Linked DNA regions of Homo sapiens. The protein of the gene in region 1 interacts with the protein of each later gene in a pairwise test. Each region holds a gene or a part of one and is shown on either strand. Other genes may lie near its edges.

Region 1 (7,047 bases):
TAATTTTTGTATTTTTAGTAGAGATGAGGTTTCACCATGTTGGCCAGGCTGGTCTCAAACTCCTGACCTCAAGTGATCTGCCCACCTCGGCCTCCCATGCCAGGGTTACAGGCATGAGCCACCACGCCTGACCATGATTCTTTTAAACTTAAAATAACATTTTAAAATTTGGAGACAGCTATGCCAGTGCCTTCAAGGAATTACAGCTTCCGGCTCCTGGGGTCACCAGAATTTCAAACCCCTCTGCTGAGAAAGAGCTACACCATGATGGTCATGAAGCTCACCAAAGGGGCAACCATAATTACAAGAGGGAATGAGTGACATGGGAGCGCTGCAGGTCAGAGGCATGGGCCCAACACCAAACAGATCCTTCAGCAGCAGGATCTTCAAAATGCTTTTTGAGCTTTTGCTCCCAAGTACACCCACATATGTGTTGTCTGAAAAACGACATGTCAACATTCCAAGCAGAGATGAGGAACTAAACAACCAAACACAGGCCGGGTCCTCTACTTGCTTTCATAGTGTCCTGTGTGCCCCCACCAAGTAACTGCCCCCATCACTCTGGATTTGATCCCCCACTAGATTGTAAGCTCCTTGGGAGGAGAAGCTGTCTCCTCAGCATGGCGCTTGGGCAGGAGCTCAATAAAAAGATTTCTTCAATGACTGAACTGTTCACCTCAGAAAACAGCCCTTATATAATATTTCAAATACTACTACAGCTTTATATACTAACTAGTCAGCTGCTCTTGGCTTTATCTTATTCTCTTGGAGGAAGGACAGTAAAGAGTGTCTGGTACATTCTGTGACAGAATGAGAGCTGGCAATTGGGACAGGTGCAAAGGAGAACAATGTGCTGGCTGCTACTCTTTTCACAGAAGTCTTTTGGATCCAGCCTCCAAAACTCCCTGAGACATACACAGACTGTCATGCTGGCCAACAGGAGTACTTTCGTAGACTGGTAACACTGCCCAGGTAACAAAGACGTCAGACGCCCACACTGGGCAACAGAAGCAGTTTCAGGGTACCACTTATATCCCTATCTAATGCTTTAGGATTGTGGGTATCAATGTCTGCAAGGTGATTTACTCAGGTTAATACCTGCTCAACGTGAAAATATTAACTGAAACAAACTGCTTGCTAGACATTTGTTAAAGATAATTTCCTATTTCTCTTTTTAGAAATAACTTATTTTAAAGTCTAGTTTTCTTTTACATGACAATAGCAAAATCTGTTCTCTTCAGAGGATTTTAACACTTAAAGAAACTGATTTCTCAAAAAGCCTAAAGTTGTCCTACCTTCATATTTTCTTTCACGGGTTCCAGACTTCCAGTTAGCAGCCTTGGGAGACGAACTACCAGATCTCTAGTCTGTGGTTGCAAACAAAACAATCTAGTATTACTATACGTGCATCTTTAACTAGTTTGGAAAATTAAGGCATTATTAAGATACAAAGTTAAAACTTAAAATATGACCCAATCAGAAAAATGATAGGAACCCCAGGAATAGATAAGATTAATACTGTTTGGAAAAAAAGAAAACAAAAACTGAAGGAACCAGTTTGATTAAGTATTATAAAATGATGGAGCTCTATGTTTAAACTAGCAGGATAATTCATTTTTGTACAAAAAATACCAGGAATTTATATGATTCACATGGGCCAGGCATCTGCTGGGAACATGAGATCTATCAGCTATTAAAATGTACCTGACATGGAAATAAACAAATTCTCTCCTTTTCTTTACCTTCTTCACACTAAGTTCAAGTTCTTTCTGAAAAAATCCCAATCTGTTATCCAGTCTTTCCACTGAAAAGTTCAGCAAAAATGGTGCTTTTCTGACCATCTGTGCAACATCTGCTTTACTGAAATTTTTTGAATGCAGATAAGCCACCCTAGAGAAACATAAATACATACGCATGTGATAAACACTTACATTCTTTTTTTTTGAGATGGAGTCTCATGCTACTTCCCAAAGTAACAGCTGTTTTTAAAAAGGCTCCCACACCCTAAATTACTAACTAAATAAAAGCATTCTGTAACAATGGCAAAAACACGTTTAAAACAAAACAAGCATTCACCCAACTCTAGATGGTTTCCACTTATACTTAAAAACAGAAAATAATTCTGAAATCCACTAATAGGTATTAGTTGCGGTTTTTGCCATTACTTTCAATAGCAAAAACATGATTACTTTTGCACCAACCTTTAGATTCTCTTTTCAATTAATCTGGTTTATTACTTGGTAAGAAAGAATGAAATAGCTTCTGCTTAAGATTTTTTTTTTTTTGATAAGAACAGAAAAACACAAATTAAGAAAATAACACAAATTAAGAAAATTAAGGAAATAATGGTTATAACTGAGAGAGGCATTTTTTAGGTTAGTATATTTACTGAGCCCCTCCCCTCCCCTCTTCTATTCTTTTCTTTTCAGGAAGAGTCCCGCTCTGTTGCCCAGGCTGGAGTGCAGTGGCATGATCTGGGCTCAATGCAACCTCCGCCTCCCAGGTTCAAGTGACTCTCCTGCCTCAGCCTCCCAAGTAGCTGGGATTACAGGCACACACCACTAGACCCAGCTAATTTTTGTATTTTTAGTAGAGACGGGGTTTCACCATGTTGACCAGGCTAGTCTCGAACTCCTGACTTCAAGTGATCCGCCCACCTCAGCCTCCCAAAGTGCTGGGATTACACTTGAGTGACCATGCCTGGCCTGAGCATGTATTTTTATAAATGATTTTTACTACAGTCTTTCAATATGTATTTTGTCAACTGAGAGATTTTCCTGCTAAGTTTCTGAAGATCAAACTATGTAAGTTAGTAAAATATAGAAAGTTTGACTATAAAATAACATTTTTAAAAAATCTAAAACATAGTAAAAGATGGTTTTACTAAATGTCTAAAATATATCAGGATATTATTTTGTTTAATTCTAACCAGAAAAACAAAAAAACTTGTGAGCCAAGTGAATTTTCCATGAGGAAACATGGATTCAGGGAAGTTAAATAACTTGTCTGAGATCATCACCTAATTACTGACAAAACTAAGATGTGAACTCAGGCATGCCTACATCTAAAGCCTATGGTATTTTTATACTATATACCAAAACTTATATTACTTTATAATCACATGACTATTACTCCTTTAAAAATAGTTAAAATATTTATACGTTTAAGTATATAAAAATTTTAAATGCATGGCAAAACAAAACAAAACAAAAACACCCCACTATAAATGAAGTCAAAAGACAAGTGACAATCTAGGAAAAATATCTGCAACATGTCTCAGAGACAGAACTAATTTTCTTCATATATAAAAGAACGTTTACCGAAAAAGAAAAAAGCCTGATTAAAAAATAGCAAAGGATATATTACAGAAAAGGAAATGTAAACAGAAATTCAACATATGAAAAGATGCTCCAAACAACATTCCATGTTTCAACATCTGATGCTCCAACCAACAAATAAAGTACTCTTTTTATCTATACAATCAACTGAAAGCAAAGTGTGATAGCACTGTATCTGTAAGGATAACAGGGAAGCTGGCACTTCTGTACACTGTTGGGGAGAGTATAAACTGGAAAACAACCCCTATGAAGGACAATTTGGCAATATCTATTGAAGTTACAGATGAACACACCCTTTGACCTAGCATTTCCACTTCTAGAAATACGTCCTACAGAGAGACACCAATATGTGTGATTTTTCAGAAGTATGTACAAGGTAAGTCACTACAGCCTTGTCCTAACAGTGGACTGGAAACATACTCCATGCTTATCAATAGGTACTAGCGAGATCCGCAGCATGGACTGTACTAGAGTTAAAAAGAATAGGCAGCACCAAGAAAAAATAATCTCCAAGATACAGTGAAGGTAAGATAGTGGGATACAGAATAGTGTGTATAAATGCTACCAATTGTTATGTATTTGTATTCATGTGTGTATACACAGATATATGCTTCCTAGAAGGTTGAACAAAAAATCCTGATAACAGTAGCTGTGTCGATAGGTGGGTCTTGAAAGGCCAAGGGACAAAGTAGGAGAAAAGGAGGTATTACTTGTTTTTTTGGCAGCAAGGTTCAGCATTTGATTAAAAAATTATCAAAACTATTGTCTACATTGTAATGATTTTTCCAATAAAAAATCAAGATATAAGGCCCACCCAACCAAAAAAAGAGTATTTAAATAATTAAAATGCGACTATTCATTTGAAAATTCTACAAGGATTTTTTAAATATAACTTTTTATTTAAAAAATAAGTACATGAAATCAGTGCTGTTATAGAAATAAGACTGCTGCATATATCAGAACCAGAAACAAAGTTCATTTAAATAAAGGTTCTCATACCTGTGCCTATTCAGTATTTTTTACTGTATACTCTTTTGAATACATGTGGCTGCATTACCTATTAAAAAATTCTAAGTAATTTTTAAAAATGTTCTACAGCTTAATTTGATAGCCAGCCAGGTTTAGGAATCAATGGACTATGCTACCGACGTGAGAATATTCCTCAATTGTTAGGAGCATATATGGCTTGAGCAAGTAACTTAAGCTATTAAGTTTCCTTCAAAGAATTAAATGTAGAGACAGTGTGTAGTAGTCAGAACCCTGGAGTTTGATTAACTGGGGTTGAAACCACTTACTCTGCTACTTATACTAACGGTGTGTAATCTTGGGCAAATTATTTAACCTCTCTGCGACTCCTATGTACAAAGGTGCTATTAACAATAATGGTGCAGCGTGTGAAATGATCCCTACCCTCCTGGTATTCATGCTTTCTTGGAATAAATCTTGAGCAAAAAGGGCAAGCTGGTTTTTGACTGCAGAGAGAATTAGTGTTCCTGACAGCCAAGAAGACTAGAGCTGGATATGTCAGATGAGTTTCTTAGAATCATTCTCTCTCCCTTCTGTATTGTGATAGACTATCACTCTCATGAAGGGAAAGACTGTTTTTGATGTCTAAAGTTTAGGCCAGTGTCTCACATATAGAAGGGCTCAAATGTTCAATTTAATAAATAAGGTTTTTGTTTAGTTTTTTTTCCTAATTCCGAGAAAAGACATTAGACTGATGGTTTAAGGAATCGCAAAGCTCTCTGAAATGTAGTAAGGATCAACATCAGTGTGGAGAACAGTCTGGAGGGTCATGACTAGAGGCAGACCAATTAGGAGACCATTGCAGTAATCTTGGTGTGATATTATGGGGAACTGAGGCAAAATAGTCAAAGCAAAGATTCAGAGAAATGTCATGACTGATTTGAGCTATAAGAAGAGAAGAACTGATGGGCTTTCATGATTTATTAGATGTAGATGATAAAAGAAGAGAAAGCAAGTTAATACCAGTATTTCTGAGTTGGGCAAAAGGGTATTCAGTGAATCTGGGAATACAGACTGGGTTGAATGACAGGTGGGGGCGACGATGAATTCAACATGTTAACTTAGGGACAGGGGTTTTGCCTTGTTCTCTGTGGTATTCCCAATGCCTAGCAGGATTCTTACCTCACAGATCAATATCTCACTGTATTTATTTTCACAAATTCAATAATTCTTTGAATGTTGAATGAAGTACAGAGATGTTTATAAAAGTGCTCCTTAAGAAGAAAACAAGGAACAACCAAAATAGCCAACTTACGGAAATGATTAAGCAAATTATACAGTAATTTGCCAAGACAATCTCAAATGTCTAACAACAAAAATTGGCCAGACAAAAACTACAAAAACCACAAAAGATCATATCTTTAAGTGCACTCTCAGATAAGTTAGCTATTTGTTGATGGGTTTTTTTTTTTTTTAAGAAAAAAACGTATTCCAGTTTCTAAAGAGAAAGAGTTAATTACTGACTCAGTAATAAGTTGAAAACATAAAAATAATAATGGAGCCAGGCAGGGTGGCTCATGCCTGTAAAATCCCAGCACTTTGGAGGCCAAGATGGGCAGATCACTTGAGGTCAGGAGTTCGAGAACAGCCTGGCCAATGTGGCGAAACCCCATCTCTCCTAAAAATACAAAAATTAGCCAGGCATGGTGGCCACCTGTAGTCACCCAGCTACTTGGGAGGCTGAGGCAGAAGAAGAAGAAGAAGAAGAAGAAGAAGAAGAAGAAGAAGAAGAAGAAGAAGAAGAAGAAGAAGAAGGAGGAGGAGGAGGGGGGGAGGGGGAGGGGGAGAAGAAGAATGGGTACTTGAATGAAAGAACTGTTGTAAATACTTAATTTAGATCAAAGAAGGTCTATAACAAAAAAAATTCATGTTATCTCAGTAGACCCTTGTGCAGCAGAGATTTAAAGAATACCTTCCACATATATTTCCTTCATAACCACTTCTTAGGTTATATGAGAATCCTTTTAAAAGTCCTACCTGGTCTTCAGATTTTCAAGGTCTTCAGAGAAAATTGCATGATTTTTTGTCAGGAATGCTCCCAGTTGGTTATCCTCTATACCCACATCTTTAAGAAACAGAAGCATTTGCTTAATGTCTTTTTCAAAATCCAGTCTCAGAAGGAGGTTTGCTGCTTCTGGATGTTTTTCTATCTTGGACAAATCCACGCCTATAATAAATTATAAATACTGTTTGAAGATGACTTCTTAGTTCACCCATTAAACTCATATACATAAGCACAAGAAATTACTGATGGAGATCAACACCTATCCAAAGGAGCACTGAGATAGATCAATAGAAACTTCTAAATATTTTTAAACTAAGTTGGTTGCAGAAACAACATAGTATTTATTTTAAAAATCAAGTACAGAGGAAAATAGAGCATTTAGTGCTACATTTCCCCCCAAAACAAATTCACTAAGTCATATTGGTGTAGGGTCATCATCTTTGTCTAAGGTTTCTTGAATATTGTTTCAGAATGTTTGTCAGTCCCAGATGAACCCCACAGTAACTGGTAATTCTGCAGGGTAACAAACAATATGAATAAAATGTTACCTTCTTTGAAGATTTTATTTTTCCTTAGTTATAAGCATTATTTAAAAAATATGTTTATGATTCCCATCATAGGGGGAATAAAAATGACCCTGTGCCTTACTCATCGTTGTAATCTCTAGGTCTTTAGCAC
Region 2 (7,058 bases), on another chromosome or scaffold:
CTACTTGGGAGGCCGAGGCAGTAGAGTTGCTTGAACCTGGGAGGCGGAGGTTGCAATGAGCCGAGATGGCACCATTGTACTCCAGCCTGGGCAACAGAGCAAGACTCCATCTCAAAAAAAGAAAAAAAACAATCACAGGTTCATGTGCACATGCTGTTAGGGCCCCTCCAGGGCTGTGGTAGGGGTCTGGGTTGTCCAGGAGTCCTGGACAGGGTGACAAATTGTCCCTGTTTGTCTGGACTAAGGGCCTCTCAGAATGCTAAAGGCAGGAAGTTCCAGCACACCAGGATAAACGGGTCACCCTGGTCCTGGAGCTCAGCTTCACTTGCTCTGCCCTGTGGTGTGAGGGCCAAGAGCAGGCGCCAGCTGCATCCCCCGCAGCTCCTGATGTGTTTAAATGGCTCAGCACGCCACACAGTTTCGAAAAGACCAGAAGGAGACAGCACCCTATTCACTGCAGCCCTCCCTAAGTGGTGGTATCACATGATTACCACCCCCCACCAAACTTTTTCTGTTGTGGTAAAACACACGTAACATACAATTTACCATCTTCACCATTTCAGTGGTGTTAAGTACATTCCTACCGTGCAACCATCACATGTGATTTTTATACTTTCCAATAATTGGCAGGTATTACTCTGATCAGGAAAAAAAGCTACTTTTAAAGGTGTCAATCAGCCTGTATCAGACACCTCTTGGTTCGACAAAGGTAGTGAGCGCCTTGTATCCACGTGTGTGAGCAGGACTGGGAGGCTGTGGGGTCGTTTGAGCATTGGTTGGTCCAGGTGACCTTTGTGTCCTTTCCAATCCTGACATTCCAGGATTCTGGATTCTTCCCTGCCCCAGGGGGAGAACTACTCTTTGGAGACAGGAAGACCTAGGCTCAAATGCTCGTCTGCCACTTACATGCTTAGTGACTTTGGGCCAGGCACTTGGCCTCGCTCGCTGAGCCGCAGCTTCCTCTAGTGTTGGGGAACCAGCTAGGTAGCTGTGTGTGGTCTTGCACCCCATGGGTGCTCAGAGGGGCTGATCCTTCCTCCTGCTTTCCACGTCCTCTCCCCTGGATGTGCATATGTATAAACCCTCATCCCACCAGGCCCAATCTGACATCACCTTCACCATGAAATTTGATTCCACAGCAGGGAGACCCCTCTCCTGGCTCTTGCGGCCTCTGCCTGGGGGCACCTGGCTCACTCCCCAGTGGGACTGTGGCTTCCCGAGAACAAGGGCTGCTTCTGAGTCACGCTGCCTTCCCTTGGGGCCCAGCAGATTCAATAAAGCTTTGCTAAATGAAGGCATCAGAGGCAGAAATGACCCAAGCAGACAAGCCCCCTCACAAAGCCAGTGGCTTCGCCCTTCCAGGCCAGAGGCCCAGGGGTGGGCAGACTAAAGCAGTGAACGCAGCCCACCCGCCTGATCCGGCAGGTGCCCCCCAGGGCTCCCACCTTTGGCAAGGGTCTGTTGGGGCATCTGGGGAGCAGGAGACTGGCACAGATAAATGAATTCAGAGCCACAAACACAGATGTGCTGGGGTGCCCGGCTCTGTGCAGGCACCGACACAAGGGTTAAAGGAACTGGGCTTTCCTGCCCTCAAACAGCTCCCATCTGACGGCATTTGAGAAGAAAAGGCTTTAAATGGGGTCATCCTTCGCAGACCAGGGATACATACCCAAGCCATCCTACCAACCAGACCCTGAAAACCAAGGAAAGGAGGAAGCTTGGGCACCCTGAGGTCACAGCTGGCCTTGGGGTAGCCCCTGGGGTCCCTGACAGTCTAGCCCATTCCTAGTCTAAGCCCACAAGGAACGGGCCCCAGGCCTGCAGAGGCCAGAACCTCGAGTGGGAGTTTCTGGGATACAGCCAGCCAAACCCAGGGAGCCCCAGAAACCCCCTCTCCAGACCCCAGCAGGGCTTCTTTCCATGAGGTGCCACTCAAGGCACCTGAACCCCTCCCTCTGTGCTCACTGTCTCTGACCCATCCTCTCCCTGACCACCCGTCTGAACAAGAGCCCACTCAGCCCTCTGCACTGAGGACCCTGCCCCCCAGCTAGGCTGGAGGCCACCCTGGCCTCTTCACTGTGGGAGCAGACCTTTCTCCCAGACACCCGCCTTGGGCATCCAGGTGCATGCTGAGTGGGAGGGGTGTTACCGGTTCATGAAATGTCAGAGCCCAAGGGGGCCTCAAGAAGGCTCCGCCCACCTTGTCTATAAATTGGGAAACTGAGGCATGAGAGAGGAGATGACACTCCCCACCTCGGAATTGAAGTCCTCATTTCTCGAGAACATTTCCTGGGTGGCTCCCAGCCCAAGGTCACGCAGAGAAGGAGAGGCAGTTCCCGGGTGGAAGAGAGGTACTCAGTTCCCGACTCATCGCTCCACACGGGCCGGGCTAGGCAATACGAACCCGGTTCCCGGCCCTCTCCTCCTCCAACGTCCATCGCAGGCGCGGCATGCACCCCACCGAGATGGTCCACGCCCTGATCCACCCCCCAAAAAAGGCCACCTTAAACCCTGGCTCCGTCCCCACGGTCCCCAGTCCGCCCTGGCGGCCGCGCACAATCCGAGCCTTTCGCGGCATAGCCGCGGCCTGGAGGTCACAGCAATCGGGGCGGGAAGGGGGGCGCACGAACCGGGGGCCCCAGGAAACCAGGGCTCCGGGAGCCGGAGCGGCGTCTCCCGCGAGCACCAGGGATCCCGCCCGCCCCGGGCCCGGGAAGGAGGAGCGGCGGCAGCGGGCCCCGCAGGCAGGACAGCTCCTCGCCCGCCGCCGCGCCGCCGCCGGGGGCCCGTTGGGGTCGGGGTCGGGGTCGGTCCGGGCGCGCCGCCTTTGCTCACACCCCCACCACCCCGGCCTGGCAGAGCCGTCGGCCAGTCCGTCCTTACCCAAGACACGACGCGCAGGATGGTGTGCGGCTGCCGGACCAGGGTGTAGGGGTCGAAGGCGCCCCCGGCTTTGCCCGCTCCGTACGCACCCCCTTCCATCGTGGCTGCACCCGCGCGGTGCCCCCCGCTCGGCGCGCGCCGCCGGCCCGTGCGCGTGCGCGGCGCCCCCGCCCCCTCCCCTGCGCGCGCGGCCGGCGGCCCAGGGCTCCCGCGAGGGGGCGTCGTGCGCGGCGGGCGCAGCTCGCGGGGCGCGGGCGGGGGGCTGGGCAGCGCGCGACCTCGGGCGCGGGGGCGCGCGTGCTGCGGCCCGGGGCTCAGGGCGCGCTCGCAGCCAGTGCGGTGACCTCTTTGCAAAGTGTTTGGGGGAGGGCGGTGCGTGCACAGCAAGTGTGGGCCGTGTCCCTGCCCCGCATCCCCGGTCCCCTGCCCCGGTCGCAGCCCCTCTGAGCCGTCGGCTCTGCTGAAACCATCTTCACGCTTGATTTGTTTGGCTGTTTCCTGCCACTTTGTCGGCCCCAAATATAATGAGAGGGCAGGAGCTGTGTTCGTCCTTCTTAGAGGGTGCTTGGTACGCAGTAGGCGCCGCATGAATATTTCTCGAATGAATGAACCACGAGTGAATGACCCTCTCTTACAGCCCTCCAGAGCAGCCCCCACCTCCCAGGACCACCCTTCCCCTGCCTCTTACGATGACGTCATGTGTGTCCCTGTGCCCGCGCACCCTCCCACCCCCAGCCTGGAGGGGCCTGGCACAGAGGCGGCGGCTGAGACTTCCTCTTCCCCATCCCCTCCTACCCCAGAACGTTGCCCCTTTCCTGAATCTAGCAATTAATTACGCAATCATTTGTTCATGGCCTCTTCTGCTGCTAGTCTGTGAGCTCCCGAGGCCCAGGTGTTGTCTAACTTATTCAATGCCTTACCCAAGGGCCTAGCATACAGTAGGTGCTCAGTAAACAGAGCCTAGTCCCCATCACCCCATCACAGCTTGGGCTAGACCTCCAGGTTTCATGGAAACGGAGGCTAGATGGAGGAGTGCTCCCTGCAGGGGAAGGGCCACCTTCCAGGGCTGGCTCTCCTGCTGCCCTGTAGCTCTATGGCCTCTCTATGTCTGCAGTCACCTTCACTGGTTCCAGGAGCAGGTTGGATGAGGATATGGGTGGAGGCTTTTGCTTCTCTGGTATCCTGCCATTCTGTGATGACAGGACACAACATCTGTGTGGAGGAAATGTGTGCTGGGCCTGAGGGTGCTCCTTATAAAAATTACATAGTCAATGTCCATCTTAGGCTCAGCTGATTGTTTAGTCTCTACCAGGCCTTGTGCTAAGGGCTTTACATACATTTTCACATTTAATCCAGCACACTTATAAGGTGTCTACTATGACTATATAAAACTTTTAGAAGAAAGCACAAGAGAAGGCCGGGCGCAGTGGTTCACGCCTGTAATCCCAGCACCTTGGGAGGCCAAGGTGGATGGATCACAAGGTCAAGTGATTGAGACCATCCTGGCCAACATGGTGAACCCGGTCTCTACTAAAAATACAAAAATTAGCCGGGCGTGGTGGCGAGCTCCTGTAGTCCCAGCTACTTGGGAGGCTGAGGCAGGAGAATCACTTGAACCCAGGAGGTGGAGGTTGCAGTGAGCCGAGATCGCGCCACAGCACTCCAGCCTGGCAACAGAGCGAGACTCCGTCTCAAAAAAAAAAAAAAAAAAAAAAAATCATGAAGAACATGATTCATAAAAGAAACAATTGATAAACTGGACTTTATCAAAATTAAGAACTTCTGTTCTTTAAAAGACATTGTTAAAAGAATGTATGAAAAGACAAACGATAGTCTGGGAGAAAATATTTGCAAAGCATAGATCTAAAGAACTTGCATCCCAAATAAAGAACGTTCGAACTCAATAATAATAAGAGGACCCACTTTTTAAAAAATGGGCAAAAGATTTGAATAGTTATACACCTCACCAAAGAAGATATACACACGGCAACTCAGCACATAAAAAGATGCCCAGCATCCGCGGTGGCTCACGCCTATAATCCCAGCACTTTGGGAGGCCGAGACGGGCAGATCATGAGGTCAGGAGATTGAGACCATCCTGGCTAACACGGTGAAACCTCATCTCTAGTAAAAATACAAAAAAAAAAAAAAAAAAATTAGCCGGGTGTAGTGGCTGTAGTCCCAGCTACTCGGGAGGCTGAAGCAGGAGAATGGCGTGAACCCGGGAGGCGGAGCTTGCAGTGAGCCGAGATCGCGCCACTGCACTCCAGCCTGGGCGACAGAACGAGACTCTGTCTCAAAAAAAAAAAAAAAAAAAAAAAAAGAAAGAAAGAAAGAAAAGAAAAGATGCCCAACATCATTAGTCAGAAATACAAGCTGGGTGTGATGTGGTGTGTACCTGTGACCCCAGCTGCTTGGGAAGCTGAGGCTGGAGGATTGCTTGAGCCCAGGAATTCAAGGCTGCAGTGAGCCAGGATTGCACCAATGCACTTCAGCCTGGGCAACCAAGTGAGACTGTTAAAAGAAAAAAAAAAGAGAGAGAGAGAAGTACAAATTAAAATTAGAATGAGATACTTCTACACATCTATTAATATGGCTAGGCTGGGCACGGTGGTTTACGTCTGTAATCCCAGCACTTTGGGAGGCTGAGGCGGTGGATTGCTTGAGGTCAGGAGTTCAAGAACAGACTGGCCAACATGGAGAAACCCAGTCTCTACTAAAAATACAAAAAAAATTAGCCGGGCGTGGTGGTGGGTGCCTGTAATCCCAGCTACTCGGGAGGCTGAGGCAGGAGAATAATCACTTGAACCCAGAAGGTGGAGGTTGCGGTGAGCCGAGATGGCACCACTGCACTCCAGCCTGGGCGACAGTGTCAAAAAAAAAAAAAAAAAGTGAAAAGTTTACTCACAGAAAAACCTGTACAGAAGTTTTATTTCTTTTCTTTCTTTATTTATTTATTTTTGAGACGGAGTCTTGCTATGTCACCCAGGCTGGAGTGCAGTGGTGCGATCTTGGCTCACTGCAACCTCTGCCTCCTGGGTTCAAGTGATTCTCCTGCCTCAGTCTCATGAGTAACTGGGATTACAGGTGCCCGCTGCCATGCCGGGCTAATTTTTGTATTTTTAGTAGAGACGGGGTTTCACCATGTTGGCCAGGCTGGTCTTGAACTCCTGACCTCAGGTGATCCGCCTGCCTCGGCCTCCCAAAGTGTTGGGATTACAGGCATGAGCCACCGAGCCCAACCCTGAACAGAAATATTTGGAGCAGTTTTATTCGTAATAACCCAAACGTGGAAACAACCTAAATGCTCCTCAAGTTGGGAGGGTATAAACTGTGCACTACTCAGGAATAAACACTACTCAGGAATAAAAAGCAATGAACAGTGGATACACTCAACAATATGGGTGACCCTCAAGTGTATTATGCAAAGTGAAAGATGCCAGACTCAAATGTCTAGAGACTGCAGGATTCCCTTTATGTGACATTTTTGCAAAGGCAAAACTGTTAAGGACAAAAAAAAGATCAGTGGTTGCCAGGGGATTGGTGGGCAGAGAGTTACTACTAAGAGGCACGGGGAAATCTGGAGGCATGATAGAATCATTCCATATCTTGTTTATGGGAATGGTTACATAATTAATACAATTGTTAATTTATTTTATTAATAAAACATGTTTTATTAATAAAATAAAAAATGTTTGTCAGCTGGGCGCTGTGGCTCATGACTGTAATCCCAGCACTTTGGGAGGCCAAGGTGAGCGGATCACAAGGTCAGGAGATTGAGACCATCCTGGCCAACATGGTGAAACCCCGTCTCTACTAAAATACAAAAAATTAGTGGCCGGGCATGGTGACTTAAGCCTGTAATCCCAGCACTTTGGGAGGCTGAGGCAGGCGAATCACGAGGTCAGGAGTTCAAGACCAGCCTGGCCTGTAATCCCAGCTACTCGGGAGGCTGAGGCAGGAGAATTGCTTGAACCTGGGAGGCGGAGGTTGCAGTCAGCCAAGATCGAGCCACTGCATTCCAGCCCAGGTGAAAGAGTGAGACTCCGTCTCAAAAAAAAAAAAAAAAAAAATTAGCTGGGCGTGGTGGCATACGCCTGTAGTCCCAGCTACTCGGGAGGCTGAGACAGGGGAATCACTTGAACCCAGGAGGCAGAGGTTGCAGTGAGCTGAGA
Region 3 (2,909 bases), on another chromosome or scaffold:
CTAACTCACTGTCTTTAAGACCTGCTGATTGATTTGTCTTTTCAGAGCTGATGATTTTTTTTGGCCAACTTCATAGGAGCACAGGCTTTAATTCAATATTGCCAGATCTAAAATAGTGCCTAGGTGTAAACTTAAAGTTTCTGCATTTTACTGTAAGTAAATTATTCCCCTCAAGAAAAAATACTGCTATAAAATAGTGTCTGCCACAATAAATGTTAAATAAATTGGGTGACTGAATCCAGCCATCTGCGTCATCTCTAAGATAAACATGCCTAACTAGAAATACTGCGTTTGTCAATTTCAGCCCTAGTATGTACACCTAGTTCTTTTTGAATACTTAATGAATTTTGTGATTATGGCAGAACAATATCCTAAGGCTAGTAATCATGAATAATTATCCACATTGTATAAAATTTTTAAAAGTGACCTATTACATTGGTAGTGCTGAAATCTAGAATTTGGGTTAATTTTCCTAAGTAAGAAAGGTAAGAGGATAAAAACAGTCCTACGTTTTTAAAAAATATTTATTTAAAAATAAGATTTCAAAAAATACAGTACTTAATACATTTTGAGAAGTAAAAATTCCACAATTTAAATTAAAAACAATCTGCAAAGAAAATAGAAATATTACGTGAAAAAAACTAAATCGCTACAATAAATTAAAAACAACAACATTGTTCTTAAGGTAGATACATGGTTTGATTTTCACATTAAGAACCAGTGTAGACTTTTCATCTAAACAAATACATCTCAGCTACATGGTTCCCACTTGTCATTTCACCCATTTTACTCACTCTTCTCAAACTATTCTTACATCTCTCAACTACTATTTTCCTAATTACCATCAACACTAGAAATATTGGTGAAGATTTTCTTCAAATTCTCTTAGGGGAAAGACAAGGTAAAAATAATAGACAATGCAAGGAAAACAGCACTCAGATCTATACATATTATGTACTGAATAATAAAATGCCTGACAAATTTAAAAACAGGATCTTCTTATGCCACTTGTAACATACCACTATTAAAAGCATTTTAGGGATATAATACTAGACAGAACTTGGGGTTCACACATAATTTTAGGAGCCTCAAGAATAACATAGATTTTGGCTATTCATTAAACTTGCCAGTTAGATCACACACAAAAAAACACTAATTCCAGGGACACAAAGTGAGCTCATACAGCATGATCCACGTGTGCTCTGTCCTTGCAAGAGCCTAGCTTTGTCCTCCCGTGTTAGACTCACAATTCACTTGTCGGAATATCTCTGATTCTGGTGGAAGTTTTTACTTTTGTATCATTTAGTTGCTTTATTCTTACATATATGAAGTAGAATTTTTTTTCTTTTATATGTTCATCTCTGGGAGACAGTGAATAGTGGTGAATTCTCTACTACTCAATAACTTGAAAAATTACTGCATTCAGCCACATGCATTTAAATCACGCATAAACAAGCCAAATTACTCAGAATCAATACAGTGGCAACACAATCTAGGGAATATTGTTGGCAGATTAGAGAGAGATAATGTTGCTTCATCTCATTAGGCTTTCAAATTTTGCTTTCACCTCTAATGATATGTTCATCTAGATTTCTACATATCGTTCAAATGATCTGAAGCCACATTTCACATAAATTTCAGACTTGATTCTTTTTTTCCATTCAGAATTGACTGCAAAACCATATATTGTATCTACATTCAAGGAGAGGTTGATTTTAGCTAACAATAATGCAAAATATTTTCAAATGTGAATGTCTGCCTTTCCAATATACACACTGTCACCTTCTTGCCAGAATGATTAACCATTTTAGCTGCAGTTGTAAGGACACTGAGTGTTTTGAGAATTTTAAAGGGAAAAATCTGGAACCCAAATAATATACATAGCAGCATTACATTTGGACAATTACATTTCAAAGGTGTTTTAAATTACGAGTACACTTAAAGGGTGTTTCTCTTCATTTTTGTAAAATTAACTACTAAGCAAAATTAGTTTTAAAAATCTTACTCTATGTAAAGTGAGTAACCATATCCAGACTTTTTTCTTTCATTAAGTTCAATTTTCTGTTATCAGTTTTGCTTAAATCAAGGTACATATGCATTTCCTCTTGGGAAAGCATCTCTCTCTCTGTCTCTCTCTCTGTCTGTCTGTCTCTCCGTATCTCTCTCTCTATATATCTACACACACATATGTACACATACATATATTTTAAAGGTGTTCTGTTATCTTTATTTGCAAAGTAGACAAATGGCAATATTATTCTTTAAAGCCACTAAAGATTACACACACACACACACACACACACACACACACACACACGCTGAACTCGATTTGTAATGAGAACGAACCTTAACTCTTCATCTTAGTATTTTGTTTCAGTATTCACTAAAGTGCCCAATAAGCTATATAGTTCATTTATATAAATTAGAGTTCTTACCTTTTTATTCATTGTTGCAGAAATAAAACAACTTGTGAAAAGTGCTTCAATTATCTTTTGTAATTTCAGCCTATCAAACTACCTTTTAAAGTAGCCAAGCTATATTAAAATACAAAATTAAAATCCATACATGCCTACCTAAAAAAAAATCCAAATGAGAAACATTTAAAATCCATTAAATTGCCAGAGCAGCATGCAAAAAATAAGATCTGTTAATCAAACTGTTCTTAGTAACATTAAATTCTACTTTATAAATACACAACGATGTGAGAAGAAAACTCAGTCAACCAAAAAGAAAATTAACTCTTTGGTACAGGAATTAAAAATGTCACTCAATGCTAAAGTGAATAGCACCAGGATGTTTTATAGTTGTTGAGGTTATAAAACACGAACTTCAGGCACCAGTAGGTTAAAATATCATCCAATGTATACTGGCAAGAATATATAGCTTGCAATACGCAGGTAAGCTTTCCC
Region 4 (7,947 bases), on another chromosome or scaffold:
CAGGGGTGGGGAACACTTTATTTTAAGGCATATTCATATCAGCATATAAGGCATATTCATATCACAATGGCACGATCTCAGCTCACTGCAACCTCCACCTCCTGGGTTCAAGCAATTCTCCTGCCTCAGCCTCCCAAGTATCTGGGATTACAGGCATGTGCCATCATGCCTGGCTAATTTTGTATTTTTAGTAGAGATGGGGTTTCACCATGTTAGTCAGGTTGGTCTTGAACTCCTGACCTCAGGCGATCCGCCCACCTTGGCCTCCCAAAGTGCTGGGATTACAGGCGTGAGCCACCGCGCCCGGCCTTTTAAGGCATATTCTAAAGATTGCACCCCAACCTCCAAAATTAAAAAAAAAAATCTCTAAAAAATAAAAAGTGATTTCATCTCCTAGGCCCCAATCAATCATCTAAGTAAAGCTTTTTCTTTGGTCCTTTTATCCTCAAAGTCATCTCTTGTTCCCACAACCCACTGCACCTGGGAAGCTGGACAGCAGGCCCAGCTGAAACAAGGAGGTCTCTTTGGTTCAGGTTGGCACTAAGGTGCCCAGTGGTCAGATGAGCAGCCTCAGGTTTGCAGGAGCCAGTAGTTCCTGTCTTGCTCCTGGGGGTACTTCCAGAAAAGCCAGAAGCGGATAAAGCTGGTGACGATTCCTGGAAAGTTGGACACCTGAAATCACAAGAACTGCTATGAGGAGAGGAGCCAGTTTTCCATCTTGCACCCCTGTCACCCCATCCCAGTTGTGCTTACCATGATATAGGGATCTCTGAGTCGAAACCCATAGAGGCACCAGGAGGCAGAGGTGAGAAGGGTAGCAATGGTGAGTGGGTAGGAGAGACATTGGGTTGATTTAGTTTGAATCACCTTAGCCTGTGGGAAAGAATGGAAGACTCTCTTGGCCCAAGCACATCGTAAAGCTTCACTTGCCTAAGAATTTCCTCAAGAAAAAGGTCAGACACCCTCCCTGATCTGTCACCCAACCTTTCCTGCCTCCCACTCGCCCACTTCTACTGCCTTGTCTTCTTCCAGGGTTTGGATCTCCCCTTCCTCGGGACTGTAAGCCATAGTATTTGGCTATGAGAGCCTGACTCTTATCTCTCCTACCTCCTTGGACACCCCCACTCACCAAGTCAGCCAGTGGTGAGAGGTACATGCTGATGGTGAAGACACTGCAGAAGAGGCCCAACTGCTGAAGCCGGGCCTCAGGGTTGGGTACCAGGAGCCAAAAGTAGCCATAACCCAGGAGAAGGACCCCTAGCAGGGTTGCAGTCTGTAGGAGCACAACACGCTGCAGGGGAGAGAGTACCCTTACTTCCAGATGTGCACTCTGACTTCCCTGCTAGAGTTAATTCATCCTGCCTTCTCCAGTGCTCCAATGGGGAAGCCAAGCTGTCTAGGCCTCCAGCACTGCACTGTCACAGCTTCTTTCCCACCACCAACTTGATAGGAAAGTCTTATCCACCCACAACACTGGAGACTTCTGGGGGAGATAAATATGTGTTTTTTTCTGTGTGCTTGGCACACACAGTAGGAGCTTCATAAATGCTTGTGTGATTTAGCAGGGACGCAGAGCTAATCATCTCATTCTCACCCACAGGCCCTGGCTCTGAAAGAAATATCAGAGACAAAAGCCCTTTCCCCTTAGCTTGTTGGCTGAAGCCCAGGGCAGGCAGCATAGGCATCTCAGGCTAGGCAGAGCTACCAGCCTTGCCTAAATGGGGGCAATGTGTTCATCTCAGAAGGCTGGCTTCATAGAGGAAGGGGACCTGCAAGGCTGGAGAGGCCTTCCTGGAAAAGGTGGCAGTGCCAGCTGTTACAGTCTTCTAGGAAATAGTGTTTGCCCTGCCAGCAAGGCAGGGCGTGCAGCAGATAGGTGGGTCCAAGGGAGGGCCTCTACCTTCCGAGGGCAGTAATGCAGATATGCCAAGATATACAGGGTCTGAAGCGCAGCACCCACTGTGTTGACGACGATGAGGATCCCGTCTCCCTTCAAAGCCCCATAACTCAGCCAGCCCAGGTTGCTGCAGGGTGGAGGGGATGGACATGGCTCAAAGGGTTCAGTGTGAGAGGAGGACCCAAAGGGTCTTTCACTCTTTTTTTTTTTTTGAGACGTAGTCTCGCTCTGTCGCCCAGGCTGGAGTGCGGTGGCACGATCTCGGCTCACTGCAAGCTCCGCCTCCTGGGTTCACGCCATTCTCCTGCCTCAGCCTCCCGAGTAGCTGGGACTACAGGCGCCCGGCACCACGCCCGGCTAATTTTTTGTATTTTTAGTAGAGACGGGGTTTCACCGTGTTAGCCAGGATGGTCTGGATCTCCTGACCTCGTGATCCGCCCGTCTCGGCCTCCCAAAGTGCAGGGATTACAGGCGTGAGCCACCGCGCCCGGCCAAACCTCTTTCACTCTTGCTCCTCCTGCCCCGCCCCCACCTCCCTCTGGTAGCCTTTCCCACTACCGCAGCCGTCGGCCCCTCACTTGACTTCCGTGGTGAGAAAGGGCAGGAACTGGACGTTGTCCACACTCCGGGTCATTCGCATGTGCCTGAGGTCCGAGCTGTAATGGGGCCCCGAAGGGAGGGGTGGGGGTGGGAAGGGAGAAGCAGAGTGCTAGAGGGGGATGCCCAATGCCTGTCATCCTTTCCGGACCACCGCAGACCCCGCCCCCTCTCCCCCCCGCCAGCTATCCTGCCTTCTCCTTCAGGCCTAGTGACCAGCCTCGCCCTTGTACCCCGGTCCCCTCGACCCGATCCCACTTTGATCCCGGTTCCGGACGAGCCAGGTGCTGTGGCCACGTCTCTGTCCCCTCTCTCTCCTTTCCTGACTGCCTAGTCCTCCCCAACCCAGCCCGGCCGCACTCTCACAGGCCGGCGGAGAACATGCCAAGGGTGAAGACCACGCATGCTCCGTAAATGAGCGAGTCCAGAAAGCCGCCCGCCTCCATTACGACTAGAGTCGGATCCCGCGCCCAGCGCCCGCCGCGAGCCTGCGGTTGCCGGGACCTACTGCAGCCCAGACCTGCGGCTCTGGAGCCCCGCCCCGCGCACTCGGCTCCGCCCCCGCACGCTCGGGCCGTCCCTCCGGAAACTGCGCCGAAGCCCCACCCTCCCTCCGACGCCGAACCGGAACTCGCGCCCCTCTCCTCCGAGCGCCTTCCCAGTACCCTGGTCCAGACCTCTTCCATGTCCCGGTCAGTCCCCTTCCTAGGGCTCCGCGGGTGTGTCCCCGATACCTGCCGCTGCTCACACTCTGCCTACCCCTTGGATCATCTAGACGCCCCCAGTCTCAACGCTCGTGTTCCCACAGGCCTGTGCGCCTTCGGCGGTGGACCTCCAAACAAAAGCTTGCTAGTTTAACAAGACTTCAGCACGCTTTCCATCCAGAGCTCCACATCAGAACCTCAGTTGCCCAGGGTTTGGGAAGTTTTTTTCTGGAGTGTGCTGCCGAAGCTTTTTCTCAAAATAACACATTACCAGGAATCACCAAGCCTTCCTCTTTTGCCCTCCCTCTCGGGTCAACTTTACATGACGTGGCCAATCCACTGACGCCTCTATCACTGACCCCCGGTCCAACCCACTTGTTACTGGGAACTTTCCCTCCCAGCCTCCCACACGTCTCTGCTAGTGTGGCTGTGGGGCGGGGCCGCATGCCTCAGCTGGCGTTCCCAGCTTCCCTGACTCACCGAAACAGCGTGAGTACCTGAATGGTAGTATGCCAAAGCCCTGCGGTGACGGAGTGGGAGTGGGGTAGAGGTCGGATAGGAAGAACTTCCAGAGTGGAGTGCAGCTCAGAACCCGAGAGACAGCTGTCAGGAGCACTCCGGTCCTGGACAGCCCTCAGAGGAGGAAACATCCCACCCTTTTGGCCTCGTGAGGGGCACACATTCTTTGGAGAGAAAGAAATTCAAACCCAGTTGCTACTGTTGTAGCACAGAGAGCCTCGCACTTAGCAGGGACTCAATGGTCATATGTTTTAATATGGAGTGGCAGAAAAGCATGTCCGAAAAAACACATTGCTTTATTTTGAGACAAAGAACATTGTATAAAAAAACTCCAGTTGTAGAAATCAGGACAGACACACAGCAACTTATATACAGATACTATACACGTGGGCCCTGCCCTTTAGGCTACACTCTAGGCAGAATGTACACATGGGCACTGCCCTTACAGCTACACTCTAAGAACAGGTTGGCACAGCCCCCCTGCTGGCACAGCTCTGGGGAGTGCTGCCCCAGGATGGGAGAGAATGCAGTACCTGGCTACAAACTTCTCTGTGGCAGCTCCACAGATGAGGTCTTGCTGGGAGATGCTGGGTCAGCCCAAGCATGCTGCCTCTCCTGTACCTGGCTTCCAAGCAAGAAACTGTTTCTTGCTTTTCCTTCAGTCAGTTCATCTGGGCATCCTGGCTCTCTCCTGGAGGGGGCATCTTTGACAAGCTTTGCCCATCCACGTGGCCCCTTCCAGCTCAGCTCCCACTGTGCCTTAAGGGACCATGCCTGCACAGCTTGTTTCTTTGGCTTAAAGGCAGGAATGGTGGGAAAGGACTGTCTCCACTTCTTTCTCCATCCCTCCGAGGTGAAGGTGGGGATGGCACTGTCGGGCTGGTTGGCCTCCTTCCGGTTGAAAACCTTAATACTGACCCGTTTTGAGGCTGCTAGGTGATAGCTTATGCCTGTGGTGGGAGTGGTTCCCAGGGCTGGGGGCTCTGAAAGTGGCCCCAAGACAGGTTTGGAGTGCCTGTCCCTCTCTTCAGCCTGTCCCTCTTTAAGGCCAGGTGTGGCATACACCTTCACGGGGTTTGCAGCAGCAGAAGTGGAAGGAGCAGCACAGTCCAGGCAAGTGGGAAGAGGCGTGGGGCAGCACTGTGACCGATGCTATGTAGAACCCGCACCTCTGGGTCATCTGCAAGGTGAGAGGGCAAAGGCCACCAGTGTGAGTGGCTCCACTATTTGTACTGGCTCTCAGCCCAACAGGATTCCCTCAGCCTCAGCCTGGTAAAGGAGCCACCTCCTGTACCCAACCTCTTCAAGCAGACCCCTTCCTGTGCCCCAGGCCCAGTTTGCTCCAGCTACCCACCTGCTGCAAGTCTCTTCTCCTGTGGATTGTCATGGGCCTGAGGACTGTGAGCTGAAAGACAAGAGTGGTAGTAGATCAGGTACTGTATCAAAGAGGCAGAGGGCTGTAAGTATGAGTGGGCTGGGCTGCAAGACTTCTATACCATCCTAGATCACTAGACCGCACCCAGCATAGAGATGGAGGAAGGAGGCCCACAGGGCTCTGACACTCACTGATTTTGCCACTGACAGTCACCTTCAACCTCAAGCAGCGGTCTTCATGCTGGTGGATGGGTTTGGCTGCAAGATAAGCCCACAGGGGTTAAATAAGAAACCTTTGCTGGAAGAAAATGTAAGTCCAAATGCCCCTCGCCCTGCTTTCTCAGCTCCCTACTCAATTTCATTCTTCTCTTCCCTCTAACCTTGATTCCTACCCTCCTTAGTTTTTGCTAACTTCCTGCCCAATGTTCAGCCCAGCCTCTCATTCTTTGGAAATAACCCTCAGCATAGACACTGCCCCTCCCCACATTTCATCCTTCATTCCTCCGAGTCTGAATATGTTCCTCTTGCCTGGGCCACTTAATACTACTCCTAGGCCAGGCGCGGTGGCTCACACATGTAATCCCAGCACTTTGAGAGGCCGAGGTGGGCGGATCACGAGGTCAGGAGTTCGAGACCAGCCTGGCCAATATGGTGAAACCCCGTCTCTACTAAAAATACAAAAATTAGCCGGGCATGGTGGCACATGCCTGTAGTCCCAGCTACTCGGGAGGCTGAGGCAGAAGAATCAATTGAACCCGGGAGGTGGAGGTTGCAGCAAGTCGAGATCGTGCCACTGCACTCCAGTCTGGGCGACAGAGCGAGACTCTGTCTCAGAAAAAAAACAAAAAAACAAAAACTACTCCTGCCTAGCCCCCACCGACAGAGTCCTAGATCCATCTTATACAAAGCTGATCTCATAACTTTCTTTTTGAAACGGAGTCTCCCTCTGTCACCCAGGCTGGAGTACAATGGTGTGATCTCGGCTCACTGTAACCTCACACCTCCTGGGTTCAAGCGATCCTCCTGCCTCAGCCTATTGAGTAGCTGGGACTACAGAAGTGCGCCACCACACTCGGCTAATTTTTGTATTTTTTTAGTAGAGTTGGGGTTTCACCATGTTGGCCAGGCTGGTCTTGAACTCCTGACCCTAGGTGATCCACCCACCTCGGCCTCCCAAAGTGCTGGATGATCTCATAACTTTTAAAATCCATCAGGCCATGCGCGGTGGTTCATGCCTATAATCCCAGCACTTTGGGAGGCTGAGGCGGGCAGATCACTTGAGGTCAGGAGTTCGAGACCAGTCTGACCAACATGGTGAAACCCCATCTCTACTAAAAATACAAAATTAGCTGGGCGTGGTGGCAGGTGCCTGTAATCCCAGCTATTTGGGAGGTTGAGGCAGGAGAATTGCTTGAATCCGAGAGGTAGAGGTTGCAGTGAGCAGAGATCACACCACTGCACTCCAGCCTGGGCGACAAGAGTGAAACTCCATCTCAAGAGTAATAATAATAATAAAATAAAATAAAATAAAACCCATCAGTGGCGAGAGCCCTCAGGATAAAGTCCAAACTCCTTATCACCTTTTAGTTCCCCCATGGTCTGTTCTGTCCACCTCTCCAGGCTCACATCTCCTCACTTCCTGTGTCCCTCCAACTCCAGCCAGGCTGAGCCACAGGAAGTTCCCTGAAGATGTCATGCTCCCTTTGTACGTGTGCCTTCATGCCTGGCCAGCTCCTCTGCTTGTCCTGAGCTCTGGGACCATCTTCCCCACTGAGCCTTCTCTGAGCCCCATAGCCTGGCAGGTGCCCAGGTCATTTTCCCAAGGCCCCTGTGTTCATGTCTACTGTAGCACACTGTTCTAAGGGTCTCTTAACCTATGTGTGTTTCTTCCCAGCTTCCTTGAGGACAGGGGCTCTGTAGTGTTTTATTTATCTTTGTGCTCATAGCGCTAAACAGAGTGCCCAGCACATAGTAGAAGCTCACTCACATTGGGATGTAGATGAATGAAAATAGAATTCAAGATCGGAAGGGGCCCTCTGCTGCTGGACTCTACACCAAGCATGTACCCAAGCATGTATGTAATGGCAAAAAAGAAACACAGACACTGTCCCCTCACAGGCACTCACAGATGTAGTAGTAGCTGTGTCCTTCTTTGAACTCCTTGCCCAGGGTGAAAGGTGTGAAGCGCTGGAACTTCTCAGACAGCTTCTCCGGGCCATGCTTGGCACTGGGCCGGTTGCACTGCCAGCGGACTTGGTCCTTGGACTGGGGCTGGCACAGCTGGTACTCCTCATGCTCCACCAGGTACAGTATGTACTGCTCCATGGCAGCGTCTGCCACAGAGTGATCTTCATAGTGCGGACAGATGATGTCCACGTAGTCATTCAGCTGCACATGTATGGTGTAGTCCTCATTCCGGAACCTGGGGACACACACAGGGGGAAGAAGCAGGTGGTCATTCAGAAGCCAGGCCAGATCCTTGGGCCTCTGAATGTTTACATGACCTCTCACATTTCACACTGGACCCCAAGAGATTTTTCCGAAGTTTCAACTCCCAATATGTACTGATCTTGATGTCTTACATTTCTCTCTGCCATCTCTAAACATTCCCCTGCACCATCACTGTCTCCTGTTGGTCCTTCAAATAGCATTCACTCAGTATCTTTCGGGTACCAAAGCATTTTCCATAACCCCCCTGATACTTACCTGATATTTAGATGGGCTTCTACCTATTTCTGTAGCTCACTTATCATTCTCTTCTACCCATAAATATTTCCCCAAATCTGTTCTACCAGTTGCTCCTTTTAAATGCTGTTAGGCCTCAATCTGAGACCCCCACAGGTCCATTCTGTAATC

What was found.
Region 2: the proteins of MTERF3 (region 1) and SYNGR1 interact in binary tests that used the Homo sapiens proteins (3 or more experiments, as listed by UniProt).
Region 3: the proteins of MTERF3 (region 1) and ZDHHC21 interact in binary tests that used the Homo sapiens proteins (3 or more experiments, as listed by UniProt).
Region 4: the proteins of MTERF3 (region 1) and SLC50A1 interact in binary tests that used the Homo sapiens proteins (3 or more experiments, as listed by UniProt).

Annotation. Positions count from the first base shown.
Region 1 is NC_000008.11:96,244,565-96,251,611, forward strand, and holds part of MTERF3 (transcription termination factor 3, mitochondrial isoform 1 precursor), read right to left. Parts: intron 6,532-7,047; coding exon 6,342-6,531; intron 1,891-6,341; coding exon 1,743-1,890; intron 1,368-1,742; coding exon 1,296-1,367; intron 1-1,295.
Region 2 is NC_000022.11:39,345,935-39,352,992, reverse strand, and holds the start of SYNGR1 (synaptogyrin-1), read right to left. Parts: upstream 3,003-7,058; 5' UTR 2,983-3,002; coding exon 2,884-2,982; intron 1-2,883. UniProt on the Homo sapiens protein: May play a role in regulated exocytosis. Modulates the localization of synaptophysin/SYP into synaptic-like microvesicles and may therefore play a role in synaptic-like microvesicle formation and/or maturation.
Region 3 is NC_000009.12:14,610,565-14,613,473, forward strand, and holds the end of ZDHHC21 (palmitoyltransferase ZDHHC21), read right to left. Parts: 3' UTR 507-2,909; downstream 1-506. UniProt on the Homo sapiens protein: Palmitoyltransferase that catalyzes the addition of palmitate onto various protein substrates. Palmitoylates sex steroid hormone receptors, including ESR1, PGR and AR, thereby regulating their targeting to the plasma membrane.
Region 4 is NC_000001.11:155,130,905-155,138,851, reverse strand, and holds the start of SLC50A1 (sugar transporter SWEET1), read right to left. Parts: upstream 3,001-7,947; 5' UTR 2,941-3,000; coding exon 2,861-2,940; intron 2,554-2,860; coding exon 2,476-2,553; coding exon of another isoform or gene 2,456-2,475; intron 2,025-2,455; coding exon 1,901-2,024; intron 1,292-1,900; coding exon 1,130-1,291; intron 874-1,129; coding exon 754-873; intron 691-753; coding exon of another isoform or gene 679-690; exon of another isoform or gene 673-678; coding exon 571-672; 3' UTR 1-570. Other genes in the region: EFNA1 (ephrin-A1 isoform a precursor), read right to left, coding at 4,785-4,897, 5,072-5,122, 5,284-5,349, 7,218-7,513. UniProt on the Homo sapiens protein: Mediates sugar transport across membranes. May stimulate V(D)J recombination by the activation of RAG1.